Linked DNA regions of Homo sapiens. The protein of the gene in region 2 interacts with the protein of the main gene of each other region in a pairwise test. Each region holds a gene or a part of one and is shown on either strand. Other genes may lie near its edges.

What was found.
Region 1: the proteins of PPARD (region 2) and PROX1 interact in a two-hybrid assay, tested with the Homo sapiens proteins (one study listed by BioGRID).

What each region holds. Positions count from the first base shown.
Region 1 is NC_000001.11:214,032,938-214,039,972, forward strand, and holds part of PROX1 (prospero homeobox protein 1), read left to right. Parts: intron 1-2,708; coding exon of another isoform or gene 2,709-2,711; coding exon 2,712-2,897; 3' UTR 2,898-7,035. UniProt on the Homo sapiens protein: Transcription factor involved in developmental processes such as cell fate determination, gene transcriptional regulation and progenitor cell regulation in a number of organs.
Region 2 is NC_000006.12:35,338,243-35,345,557, reverse strand, and holds the start of PPARD (peroxisome proliferator-activated receptor delta), read right to left. Parts: upstream 3,001-7,315; 5' UTR 2,877-3,000; exon of another isoform or gene 2,849-2,876; intron 1-2,848. UniProt on the Homo sapiens protein: Ligand-activated transcription factor key mediator of energy metabolism in adipose tissues. Receptor that binds peroxisome proliferators such as hypolipidemic drugs and fatty acids.

The sequences.
Region 1 (7,035 bases), on a different chromosome or scaffold from region 2:
GAAGAGGAGACTGCATACAACCCCCAAAGAAGTTGCCTTGTTCTCATGCAAATCCTACAACTACACTTCCCTCCCTCCCCTGCTGCTGATGTTCTAGATGTACCTCTTCTCTCTCCTCTGACAGTCTTGAACAATGCCTGCCCTTCCCCTGTCCCTGGTTCCCCAGACCTCCTGTGCAGTTCTTGGTGTGGGCAGGGCTTCCGGCCTTCTCTGGCTTCTCTGGGGCAGCTGCCCACACCTTCACCCCTCAAAGCTCTCTGCCATGTCATGCTGCATCCCTGAGTGCTCAAGGAACATAGAATTTCACTGAGGCTGTATTGCCGTTGGCTGATGAAACCACCCTTCTTGAAACGTTTATTTTAATAAATGCCTATAATTGGCCAGGTGCAGTGGCTCACACCTGTAATCTCAGCACTTTGGGAGGCCAAGACGGGCAGATCACCTGAGGTTGGGAGTTGGAGACCAGCCTGGCCAACATGGTGAAACCCCATCTCTACTGAAAATACAAAAGTTAGCCAGGCGTGATGGCACTTGCCTGTAATCTCAGCTACTCAGGAGGCTAAGGCAGGAGAGTCTCATGAACCCAGGAGGCAGAGGTTGCAGTGAGCCAGGATCATGCCACTGCACTCCAGCCTGGGTGACAGAGCAAAACTCCATCTCAAATAAATAAATTAATAAATGCCTATGATTATGTTTCTGTAGCATTTGGCTAACAGCTCCCAATCCAAGGAGTGAGAGTGGGCAGTTGCTCCGCTTCACTGTTCTCCAGCCACATTCCCTCCCTCAGTGATGCTCATTTGATAGAATGTGGAGGATTATCTTTGGGGGTGGAGGTGACTGTGCTAGAAAAGATTGCTTCACGAATTTTTATTTGTATAATGTGAGTGGGAGGGCTAAGCTCTCCTCCAACAAATACTCATGTATACAAGACATTTGGGAGGAAATCACCCAAAGGCCTGTAGAAAATCCACATGAATTCTCAGCAGAGAATGGCCCTTGAGGTGTATGGGTTTGCACATTCATGGCGGACAAGGCGGCACTTTGAAGGATTTTCCAGGCAACACTGGGAATTATGTCCTAAGAAATGGGCCAGTGTGAAAGTCTTTAGGAGGGTCTGATAAAAATGTAAGCTTAAGACTGATTGGCCCCAAAAGGAGTCCCTTTCATTTTTTTCTGCAGAGTTATTACATTTCTTTATAAACAACAATTAACTTGCCATAGGGAACAATGAACTTCTTTGTCCAATTTTAAACGTGAAAAACAGTGATGTCGGGTGATGATTCTGGTTTTCTTTACCAGTTACTACTATTGTTAAAAAGTACATTGCACCCAAGGTGGGAAGAAAGAGATGAAACATGTTCAACATTACACTACTTCCTTTTTACTTTGGTACGTGGCATGTCTGAACTTAGATGAAATGTCTTTCATCTCTTGTATATGCGTAGATAAATATGGCTACATGTACACCTATGATACGTTTATGTCCTCATACGTCTGCACTTAATGTAAAAATGAAACTTTACTGGTGTATAAGTACCCCACTAAAAGAAATCTACTAAGTGTCAATGTGTACTTGGAAAATCATGAGTTCATGGATTATTCTGTGATTCCATTATGTTGGTGTGGGGATAGATAGACCATGCTGTACTATAAGTAACTTCCAAAGAACACTAAATAAGTACATCAGTAGCTACTGCTTTCCTTAGTCAAGAGATCAGATTAATAAGTAATTAAGAGAACACACACACACACACAACACACATACATATTAATTGCTGTGGAAGAAAAGCCTTAAGAAATTGGGGTTCTAAAATGAATATTTGGGGAATGTTTATTTTGGATGATAAGGACCTTGAGGAATTTCCTTACCCTCTCTGAGCCTCAGTTTTCTATTGTGTAACTGGGATAATAACACCCCTTAGAGAGATTGGGAGAACTGAATGACATAATTCACATTCAGTACATAAAACATAGCCTGGCAAGTAGTAAATACTCGAAAAAAGTTAGTTTGTATTATTATTATTATCAGCTGAATAAATCACTCTCTTATGGAGCAATTCTAATCTCAAGGTTAAGTAGTTTCTGATGTAATATTTTAGGATCAGTTTTGTGACTTCATGTTAATATTATTATTTTACTCCTTTATGTATATAGAATACTTTATATTGCAGATTAATATACAACTTAGCATCTGAGTCAACAATCCTCTGAGACAAACAGATAACTGAGATTTTAGAAGATTTTCTTCATTTAAAGCTTGGGTTTAATTTATAAAGAAGCCCAACTATTTGTTATTCTATTTTGAGAACGTATTTTGTTTTCATCATGGCAATCAAAAAGAAATAGGATTCAAATTCTGAAAAAATAATTGGAGACTTTCTTCTGGATAGCACTTATTTAATAAAGTGAGGAATCCCAAAAGTCACATCCCATATTCCTATCCTAATATCCACAATGAAATCCCAGTTTTTCAATAGGTCTGCGTTGGATCTTTCATACACTCTTCTTAAAACAAAGCTGTCAACCCCACATCACAATGCTTCTATATATAATGACTTTACATTAAAAGAATAGAAGCCAGCTATTTTTAGAAAATGCAGGTGCCATGTAAGCCCCTTTCTGCAAGAATGATCTTAGCTCAGTTTCCTTGGAATAACTGTAGACTTGAAACTGAAAACTTTATTAATGCCATTGTCTCCTTGTATCAGCAGGTTCCAGAGAGATTCCTGGAAGTTGCTCAGATCACATTACGGGAGTTTTTCAATGCCATTATCGCAGGCAAAGATGTTGATCCTTCCTGGAAGAAGGCCATATACAAGGTCATCTGCAAGCTGGATAGTGAAGTCCCTGAGATTTTCAAATCCCCGAACTGCCTACAAGAGCTGCTTCATGAGTAGAAATTTCAACAACTCTTTTTGAATGTATGAAGAGTAGCAGTCCCCTTTGGATGTCCAAGTTATATGTGTCTAGATTTTGATTTCATATATATGTGTATGGGAGGCATGGATATGTTATGAAATCAGCTGGTAATTCCTCCTCATCACGTTTCTCTCATTTTCTTTTGTTTTCCATTGCAAGGGGATGGTTGTTTTCTTTCTGCCTTTAGTTTGCTTTTGCCCAAGGCCCTTAACATTTGGACACTTAAAATAGGGTTAATTTTCAGGGAAAAAGAATGTTGGCGTGTGTAAAGTCTCTATTAGCAATGAAGGGAATTTGTTAACGATGCATCCACTTGATTGATGACTTATTGCAAATGGCGGTTGGCTGAGGAAAACCCATGACACAGCACAACTCTACAGACAGTGATGTGTCTCTTGTTTCTACTGCTAAGAAGGTCTGAAAATTTAATGAAACCACTTCATACATTTAAGTATTTTGTTTGGTTTGAACTCAATCAGTAGCTTTTCCTTACATGTTTAAAAATAATTCCAATGACAGATGAGCAGCTCACTTTTCCAAAGTACCCCAAAAGGCCAAATTAAAAAAGAAAAATAATCACTCTCAAGCCTTGTCTAAGAAAAGAGGCAAACTCTGAAAGTCGTACCAGTTTCTTCTGGAGGCAAAGCAATTTTGCACAAAACCAGCTCTCTCAAGATGAGACTAGAAATTCATACCTGGTCTTGTAGCCACCTCTCTAAACTTGAAAATAGGTTCTTCTTCATAAGTGAGCTTACATCATTCTTCATAAAGAAAAATCCTATAACTTGTTATCATTTTTGCTTCAGATACTAAAAGGCACTAAGTTTCCAATTTACGCTGCTCAACTTTGTTTATATGCTTAAAAGGATTCTGTTTACTTAACAATTTTTTCCCCTAAAATACTATTTTCTGAATACTTCCTTCCAGTAAGGAATAAAGGAAAGCCCAACTTGGCCATAAAATTCTTGCCTACACTAGAAGTTTGTTGACAGCCATTAGCTGACTTGATCGTCATCTCCTAAGAGGAACACATATATTTTCACAAGCAATTCCACACTATCCTGATGGGTATGCAAAGTGGTGACAGTCTAACTCAGTGTTTCTTCATTTTAGGTATAACATTTTAAAGCAATTGATAATGCCTCTTCCAATTCAGAAGCTAGTATTGACCAAAATGTGAGAAGAGTGTATAGCATAGGAAAATTTGGGGTTAACCCAAAAGACACAATTCCAGCACACATAAGAAAGCTAGCTGCTATTTTATGCTTTCTTCCATGGTTCTCCTCTTTTTTCCCTTTTATTTTTCCCTGTTTTTCAATGATGTACAGTGTTCCCTACTTGCATTGAAAAAACTCGTATGGCATTCACACTTTTTTTCTTAGGTGGGTTTTTGTGTCCAGATGCAGTAAGAATTCATTGTTCATCCTAAAACTGTTTTCCAGACCCTTCCTTCCCCTTAGGTAATTTGATATACACCTCCTAAAATGACACAGTAACAAATCTGGTATTTAGAACATATAGAACATAAATGCCATTTTTTAATTCAACTTTAATAAGAATTACATTTGACTTTGGAGAATACAGGTCTTGACCCATGTGACTGACTAGCTGACCCGATCGCTGTAATTTAACGTCATTTATAAATTCTGCTGATGGACAGGAATGTATGAACTCAATTATTGTCAGCACAAAGCCTTAAAACCTGCTGACTTTAAATTAAATGGTGCAGTCCTATGATGCCCTGCACCATCCAGGGGACTAACAGGGCCTCGCAGTGTAGACAGAGGGTGCAGCCACACGGGCGGGGGCACCAGCCACCTCACTCTGCACCCGCGGCCTCACACATCTCCCAGCTCACACTCTACTAATGCACAGAGTCATTAGATCCAATTTGTTATTTTTCTCACTTGCTTTAAAAAAAAGCAGTTTGGATAATCATGACATTGGAATAAAGTGGGAAGGAAAAATTCCATCAGCACAAAATAGGGAAGTAATCCCAACTTGTAGTCACAGTTTTCTGACTGGCTTTGTTTTAAAAGAGGATGGCAGTCCTTGTTCGTGTCAGTGTGCCACTGGGTTTTTGCTGTTCCGTGTAATTCATATCAACTTTGTGTTGCCATTTGCAAGGTAAAAGGCAAAGCTGTAGTGTATTCACCTATGTAGACAGATTGCTAGATATCTTTTTGATCTGGGGCGAGTTCAATATTGATTCCAGACTTATTTGGATTTTTTTAGTATTATTTTCCCCTCCCTTTCTAATTTAAATAGACAAATTAAGCAAAAGTGTGTGTTCACAACCAAATGTTGATGCCCTTATCTACTGATAATATCCTCTCAATGTTCACTGAGGCATAGAAATTATTTCAGAGTAGAAATTGCAGCATGAGGATAAACTCACCTCTTTGTTCTGAAAATAGAACTTTATCACTATGCTTTCCGGTGGTTTTCCCTTTTACAATCGAAATCTTGTGCCTCCCAAGTGCATTGGAAAATGACAAAAGCCTGTCTCTCCAAATTCCTATTTAACAGTTTGATTTTTTTTTTTTAATCACCATCTTTCAAATCTTAGCTCAACTCTCACCAAGTGAAAATTGGCTACTTGGGAGAAAGTTAACTTTCTATGGTGGGATGGTGAAGGATGAGGGACAGTTTACATAGGAAAAGAAAAAAAAAAGTCTAAAGTCCATGTTGAAAAACCACACTACCACTTATTTTCTGCTAACCCTAAATTATTTTTGCGTATACGCTTGAGGTTATAGTCTGTGCCTAGACCTAAAATGCACCAGCGGGGGGGATTTTAAAAAATCCTTCAAAATACCAGTTTTTTCCCAACAAGTACAATTGTTCTTGTGCCTTCTGTGGCTTTCGATTTCATCTTTTTGACTTTATTTCCAATTACTACAGCTGCAATAAACACTAGATTTTTTTTCTGGCTGTTTGACATAACGTTGATAGCTATGCATATTTTGTGTCTTTTTAAAACAAAGCGGGAGAATACGTTTTTGAAGAAGAGAATTTTTAGAACAGTTTGATACCGCAAATTATTTTTTCCTCAATTGTTTGAGCAGCATTCGAGTTTTGAAAATTCTTGTAGAAGCCAATTTTTTGTAACTGTGGTGCAAATCTTGTGTTTTCTTAGCCTAATGAAAAGTAGTATAGAAGCAATATTTCATACCATGTGCTATATATGTGTGCGCAGATGTGTGAACATAAAATCACATACACACATATACACACATGTAAAAATATACATATATATATATGCGTGTGAAGTGGAAAGCTTACCTTTTCCTATCTAGATTTAAGAACCTATTTTAGACATTTGTTATGTTTTGTGAAAAGAATGTTCTATTTGCAACAAAACATTTAATTCTTACTGTATCTCTGGCTGTTTAATGAGGACGTTTCACATTAAATGGTAAAACACATGGAAGATGTTAGAATGTAGTAATTATTTAAGTAAACGTTCACCCACATATTCCTGAAGTTTGCTTTGTGCCTCCGAGTATTATTTAATTAAAGAAGTGTTTTATGTTTGCAGAATCTTTGTCACTGTACTAGGGATGTGGGTGAATATCATTTAAAAAAATTTAAAACAACAAAAAAAAAGCAAAACAGAAACACTAAAGCAAGAGGGGAACTTTTATAAAGCAATGTAAATATTTAACCTCATGGCTGTCATTATGTAAGACATGAGATTTTAATAAATAACTACATTCTCACGACATCTGTTGAATTTACTAGGAACACTACAGTGACTGTATAGACAGTTGAAAGCATTCTTGAAAATCCTGCTCTCTCCTTTTAAAAGTTAACAATCTCTTTTATCAGATGTCAAGGGCAAGGGTAATGCAGTTTCTGTAAATTTATGAAATTTCTTTTTCTATGTACATGAAGACATTTAGTAAGTAACACCCCCCCTTCCCATGCGCACATGTGCGCATACACACACACACACACACACACACACACACAAACACACACACTGTCATAAAGCTAATGATTTGGGGACTTTAAAAAATAGGATGTCCTCCAGGAACAATCATAAATTTATGAAAGAAAGAGTAGTTTACAGACTCCCCTGAAAGAAGCAGTGTATATGTGAAGACAGTGCAA
Region 2 (7,315 bases):
CAGTGTAATCTCAGTGCTCTGAGAGGCCAAGGTGAGGAGGACTGCTTGAGGCCAGGAGTTCGAGACATTGTGAGAGCCTGTCTTTACAAAAAAATTGTTTTTTAATTAGCTGAGTGTGGTGGTGTGCACCTGTAGTCCCCGCTACTCTGGAGGCTGAAGCAGGAAGATCCCTTGAGCCCAGGAGTTCGAGGTTACAGTGCACTATGATAGCACCACTGCACTCCAGCCTGGGCAATAGAACAAAACCTTGTGTCAGAAAAGAAAGAAGGAAAGAAAATCCAGACCCAGACTCTGCAAAAATCACTGAATGGGGAAGGAATTTGGTAATTGACAATCATGACTACCTTCTCAGAAAATGAGAGTGGACAAACTGCAAGAAGCTATCCATCTAGGGCTGCTGGTGCCCAAGCTGCTCCACAAGGACTGGCCTTGACCTGTTCTCAAATCTCTCACCTGCCACCACAGCAGAGAGCACTACTAAGGGGTAAGCACGGCCAGAAGTAACAAACTGCTCAAAAGAGTAAGGAGGAGTCCTTGAAAGCCAGAGACTAGACTAAAAATCTGTCCAACACTTGACCTCTACCTCTTTAGAATGATCCACTAAAACCCTGGAGAGATGCTATTCACAGGAACAAGGAAAACCCTCTGGTCCAGTCTACCCAAATCTTTGCAAGTGCTGCAAAGGGGGTCTGGGGGTCAGTGGAGAAGGGACTGGCTCAACAACAGGCCATCCACAATCCTATTGCTTTCACAGAAAACAGTGTACAAGAGGATTACAAAACTTTAAAGTCTGGTCAAGCTGGTTCCTTTGGCTCTCCACCGCAGCTCCTAAAGGTTGCCAACTCCCATGTCCAATCTGGCTCAAAGACAGCACAATCATCAAAAGAGGAGCCCCTAGAAACCTGGGGCCAGGTGAAACAATGAGCCTTCATTTCTAAACATGAGAGTGGGTCACGCTTTCAGAATCCTCCAAGATCAGACTGGGTAGAAACAAAGGATATGTTATTTCTTGAATACTTCTTTAGAGAACCAACGCCAAATAAAGGAGCTCAAACTGAAGGATATGACGAGAATCTTCTGCTTGGTAAGGTTAAACATCCAGACACACATGGAAGGTGGTGGGCTCTCAAGCCCCAGAGAAGATGATCTATGTGACTGGAAGCAGATGTGTCTGCTCAAGTTCCTGACAAGGTCTAACTACTGCAGCCCCACAGCCCACCAGGGTAGTTATCAATCTGATACCTCATACTATGCCTGGGCAAAGGGAACAGAGCTCTGGGATTGCCGTTCCTCCTGGATACAGAGGAAATTAAGCTCCCAGGGAAAAAGAGGGACAATTTGGATTCCCTAGATTCAGAAAAGAACAAAGAAAAAAGAGGGAGAAGAGACTCCAAGAGAACATGTTCAGTGACCAACATCAGAGGCACATTCAGTTGGCCAAAGATTGTCAAAGAGATATGAGAGAAAATCAGCAGCTGTTTCAAGCCACCAATAATAAAAGGGGACAGATGCCCGCCAGCCCCAGGGCTATCAGGCCAGCAATCTATTTCAAAACTCAAACGGGAAAAAAAAAAGTTCTGGAGCCAGTACACAGAAAAAAGGTTGAGGACCACAAGTATTTTCTGGAGCACAGCTTCTGGAGAATTCTCTTAGTCCTTTCGGATGGAGCACAGGGTGGAGGGTGGGAGTGAGGGCAGAGAGAGGCTGGGGTATCATGGTATAAGTGTATTCCACACATCCAGAGTGGAAAGACACAAAACCCCGGTTCCTGGAAGGGGAAAAGAATTGGACAAAGCCTCCGGCTACCCGTGGCACACATCCAGCTCAGCGCCGTCTCCCCCAAGGGTTCCTGGAAGTCAACAGCCCCATAAAGGGGAAGTATTAAAGCTGAGATAAGAAGAATGGCCTACAAATTGGACATCATCTCTGATGCAACACCCACGTACATTCTCCCACACAATCTGTTATTTCCTTTAGTCAATCAGCCTCTTAATTCGATCAAGGTCTGAACACCTCCACCCCCACCCCATGGTTATGTCAACTGCAGGTCAAGTGAAAGTAGAGTAGAGTGTGGAGCTAAGGCTTCTCCCTGAAGCAGGGGAAAGGAACAGGGAGAGAAAAGGAGGTGGGCGACAGGAATGTAGGGGACAGAATTGATACGAAGGAAATCGGAAAAAGGAGCAAAAACAGGGCCTCTCAGGGAACCAAGGTGAGAGTCTTAGGGAGACAGGGACTGCAGGCACGGAGTTGGAAAAAGCCTAGGAACACCCTGGGGAAGAGGATGGGGACCCATAATACTAGGAGGGATCAGACCACAGATAAGAAGGGGACAGGGATGGGGAGAGAGAGTAAAGCCTGAGAGAGCAAGGATGGGAGGATGAAGGCAGGAGACAAGGATAACGAGGGGGACAGAGGAAAAGATCCCAGAGAAGACTCTCGCTAGATAGGGCAGTGGATTCAGGAACACCAGAAACGGGTGAAGGAAGAGGTCAGAGGCAGGGGAGGGGAATGGGAGAGGCCCCCGGGCCTGAGACGGGGTTCTCACAAGTGGGAGAAGACGAAGCCACCAGGCCCAAGAGGGGGCAAAGAGTAGGGTGGAAGGAGGCCCGTATTTCGGACTCACTCAAGCAGCTATGGGGGTCCAAGGGCGGGGGGGCGCAGGGTCAGCGGGGCGCCTACATGGCAACGCACGACGGCTGACCGGAGCGGGCCGGAGCATCAGGAAGCCGCCGTGACGCTGTCCGCGGACCCCGGCAGCTCCCCGCACCCCGTTCCCCGCCGCCGGGCCTTGCGCCCCAGTCCCGCTGGCCGCCTCGGCCCAGGCCCGGCGCTTCCCTCCGCCACTTGCCTGACCGCTTCTCTCGTCTCGGACTGACCTGTCCCGGCTGCCTACGGCGCCACCGCCGCCGTCCCGCAGGCTCCGCAGAATTCTCCCGCTCCTGCCAAAACTTTTCCCATTAATCCCCAGGTCCGCGGCGGCCGCAGCGTCACACGCTCCGCGGCCCGGCCCCGCCCCCGCCAGCGAGACGTCACCGCGCTGCTCGGCCTTTCCCTCCCCACGCCCCCTTCCGCCCGGCGGCGGCCAATCACCACGCCTCCTGGAGACTCCCCTAATTCTGCCTCTCCGCCCACCGCACGCTGCCCCGGGCCAGCCTGTGGCGCCCTCTGGTGCGGGATGCGGACGTAGCAGCTAAGGGAGGAGCAGGGGAGCGCCAGGTCCAGTAGAACAAGTCCAGCAAGTGACACAAGAGGGAATTTAAAGCTGGAAGGGAATTTCTAGGTCATCTAGTGCAACCTCCTCATCTTCCAGTGAAGAAACTTAGTCCTAGAAAAGGTACGTGACTTGCAGTGACAAGTCTGGAGAGACTCTTAACCCAGTGCTAGGTCCACTGGAGGAGATCATATCGCCTATAATTTTCAAAAAAGGGCTTTCCGCCTTCAAGAGGCTTCTACAACTGGAAATTTACGGTCTTAGAGTTCTTAACCTTTCTTCCCATGTGCTTATGCAATACGCTTATTCACCTAAAATAGGGGACATCCTCCTTATTGTTGTAGAAAATTCTGTTCTTATTAATCCACATCTTTAAGACCTGGAAGGGACCTATTATCCCAACCTACCGCTTAAGATGTACCACAGGAAACTACCTAGCAGCTGGGAGGCAATCTGGTGGAAGAAGTTGGCTTTCATCTGACGATGAACAAAGCTTGACTCTCAGGTATATGACCAATGCCTCCCCTCCATCATCATTAAAGATGACCCCTCCCCTCTCCTTCGGCCACACCTTCCGTAGGCCGCAAGCTCCTTAGGCCACACCTAGCTATCTGGATGAGTGATTTTTTTTTTTTTTTTTTTTTTTGAGACACAGTTTCACTCTGTCGCCCCTGCTGGAGTGCAGTTGCGCAATCTCAGCCCGCTGCAACCTCCGCCTCCCGGGTTCAAGCGATTATCCTGCCTCAACCTCCCAAGTAGCTGGGATTACAGGCATGCGCCACACGCCCAGCTAATTATTGTAATTTTAGTAGAGACAGGGTTTTGCCATGTTGCCCAGGCTGGTCTTGAACTCCTGGACTCAAGTTATCCTCCCACCTTAGCCTCCCAAAGTGCTGGAATTACAGGCGTGAGCCACCGTGCCTGGCAGGGATGAGTGATTTTTTCCCCCTTCTTTCTGCTTCTCTTTTTCTTTTTCTTTTTTTTCCCCTACTTTTTGAAATGCTTGTGCATTATATTTGTAACTTAGATGTCAACCTCCTTGCCCTTTGAGATTGAGGTAAAAATGGACGGTGAAAGTCAGAGTCCCTCCCTTAACATATTTGCAAATATCTGGGGATTTATATTCTCCTAAATATCTCTGCCTCTGGGTTTCTGCTTTTGCCAGGCTGTTGCGTACCACAGTTCAGAAGTCTGGAGAGGAAACTCAGCTCTCCCTAAGGACTGCCCGCACCCTTCCCACACAAAACATTGACGAGTACAAAGACATTAGGGTACTCTGGGCCCTGGGGGAGGTCATATGATACATGGCAAACAGTTTAAACTCACCCCTCAGAAGTTTTTTTTTTTTTTTTTTCCCAAGGCAGAAGAATTTTTCTTAGTGCAGAACAAAATGAGAAGTCTCCCATGTCTACTTCTTTCTACACAGACACGGCAACCATCCGATTTCTCAATCTTTTCCCCACCTTTCCCGCCTTTCTATTCCACAAAGTCGCCATTGTCATCCTGGCCCGTTCTCAATGAGCTGTTGGGCACACCTCCCAGACGGGGTGGTGGCCGGGCAGAGGGGCTCCTCACTTCCCAGTAGGGGCGGCCGGGCAGAGGCGCCCCTCACCTCCCAGACGGGGCGGCTGGCCGGGTGGGGGGCTGACCCCCCTACCTCCCTCCCGGACGGGGCGGCTGGCCGGGCGGGGGGCTGACCCCCCACCTCCCTCCCGGACGGGGTGGCTGCCGGGCGGAGACGCTCCTCACTTCCCAGATGGGGTGGCTGCCGGGCGGAGAGGCTCCTCACTTCTCAGACGGGGCAGCTGCCGGGCGGAGGGGCTCCTCACTTCTCAGACGGGGTGGTTGCCAGGCAGAGGGTCTCCTCACTTCTCAGACGGGGCGGCCGGGCAGAGACGCTCTTCACCTCCCAGACGGGGTCGCTGCCGGGCAGAGGCGCTCCTCATATCCCAGATGGGGCGGCGGGGCAGAGGCGCTCCCCACATCTCAGACGATGGGCGGCCGGGCAGAGACGCTCCTCACTTCCTAGATGTGATGGCGGCCGGGAAGAGGCGCTCCTCACTTCCTAGATGGGATGGCGGCCGGGCGGAGACGCTCCTCACTTTCCAGACTGGGCAGCCAGGCAGAGGGGCTCCTCACATCCCAGACGATGGGCGGCCAGGCAGAGACACTCCTCACTTCCCATACGGGGTGGCGGCCAGGCAGAGGCTGCAATCTCGGCACTTTGGGAGGCCAAGGCAGGCGGCTGGGAGGTGTAGGTTGTAGTGAGCCGAGATCACGCCACTGCACTCCAGCCTGGGCACCATTGAGCACTGAGTGAACGAGACTCCGTCTGCAATCCCGGCACCTCGGGAGGCCGAGGCTGGCGGATCACTCGCGGTTAGGGGCTGGAGACCGGCCCGGCCAACACAGCGAAACCCCGTCTCCACCAAAACCAGTCAGGCGTGGCGACGCGTGCCTGCAATCGCAGGCACTCGGCAGGCTGAGGCAGGAGAATCAGGCAGGGAGGTTGCAGTGAGCCGAGATGGCAGCAGTACAGTCCAGCTTCGGCTCCGCATGAGAGGGAGACCGTGGAAAGAGAGGGAGACCGTGGGGAGAGGGAGCGGGGGAGGGGGAGGGGGCCCCTCAGAAGTTTTTAGAAGTCCTTTCCACACCCCCAGCTGAGGTTTTCTAACTGGCCCTGCACCCTCTAGCCTCCTCCAAAATCACTAACTCTCCCTCCTGCCCCACCATTCTCTCCTCTGTCCCACCCTCTCTGGAGAAAACACAAATTCCTCTGGCTTTCTACGGAGAAAGAGAAAGCGACATTTTAACCGTATCTCTTTGTTGCTTAAGTTCCTGCCAACACTCATGCTTTGCAGATCTGTCTACCCCTAATAGGCTTATTTCCCCTGTAAACTAAAAACAAATCCTAAGCCCCCTAACTAATTGAATGGACCCTCTTGGCCAAGGAGACCCCAGAAAAACCTTAAAAACTGAGTTTCCAGCCATGACAGGTCAGGGGGTCAGACATGCCTGGTTATACTCCCTCCCTTTTGCAGTTCAGACACAACATCTGACCAGCATCAATGTTAAAATAGAGATCATAGACTAACAGAATGCACTCTTTATGGCAATAAGATACCAAATTATAATCAGGACCTAAGGCCGTGTCAGGTAAGGGTTAAGTCACACACGCCTACACCTAAAGAATAAACTATATTTTCTGCCAGGCACGGTGGCTCACGCCTGTAATTCCAACACTTTCAGAGGCCGAGGGGGGCAGACTGCTTGAGCGCAGGAGTTCGAGACCAGCCTGGACAACATAGTGAGACCCTGTCTCTTAAAAAAAAAAAAAAAAAAAAAGAACGGCGGCTCACGCCTGTAATCCCAGCACTTTGGGAGGCCTAGGCAGGCAGATCACGAGGTCAGGAGATCGAGACCATCCTGGCTAACATGGTGAAACCCCATCTCTACTAAAAATACACAAAAAAATTAGCCAGAATATGTATGTTTAGCCAACCTGTTCAGCATAAAGCTCCTGTCCCAGCCCCTCTTCCTTTCAAGTACCTGCAACAAAATTCAACAACCCTTCATGCTAAAAACTCTCAATAAACTAGGTATTGATGGGACGTATCTCAAAATAATAAGAGCTATTTATGACAAACCCACAGCCAATATCATACTGAATGGGCAAAAACTGGAAGCATTCCCTGTGAAAACTGGCACAAGACAGGGATGCCCTCTCTCACCACTCCTATTCAACATAGTGTTGGAAGTTCTGGCCAGGGCAGTCAGGCAAGAGAAAGAAGTAAAGGGTATTCAATTAGGAAAAGAGGAAGTCAAATTGTCCCTGTTTGCAGATGACATGATTGTATATTTAGAAAACCCCATCATCTCAGCCCAAAATCTCCTCAAGCTGATAAGCAAGTTCAGCAAAGTCTCAAGATACAAAATTAATGTGCAAAAATCACAAGCATTCCTATACACCAATAACAGACAAACAGAGAGCCAAATCATGAGTGAACTCCCATTCACAATTGCTACAAAGAGAATAAAATACCTAGGAATACAACTTACAAGGGATGTGAAGGACCTCTTCAAGGAGAACTACAAACCACTGCT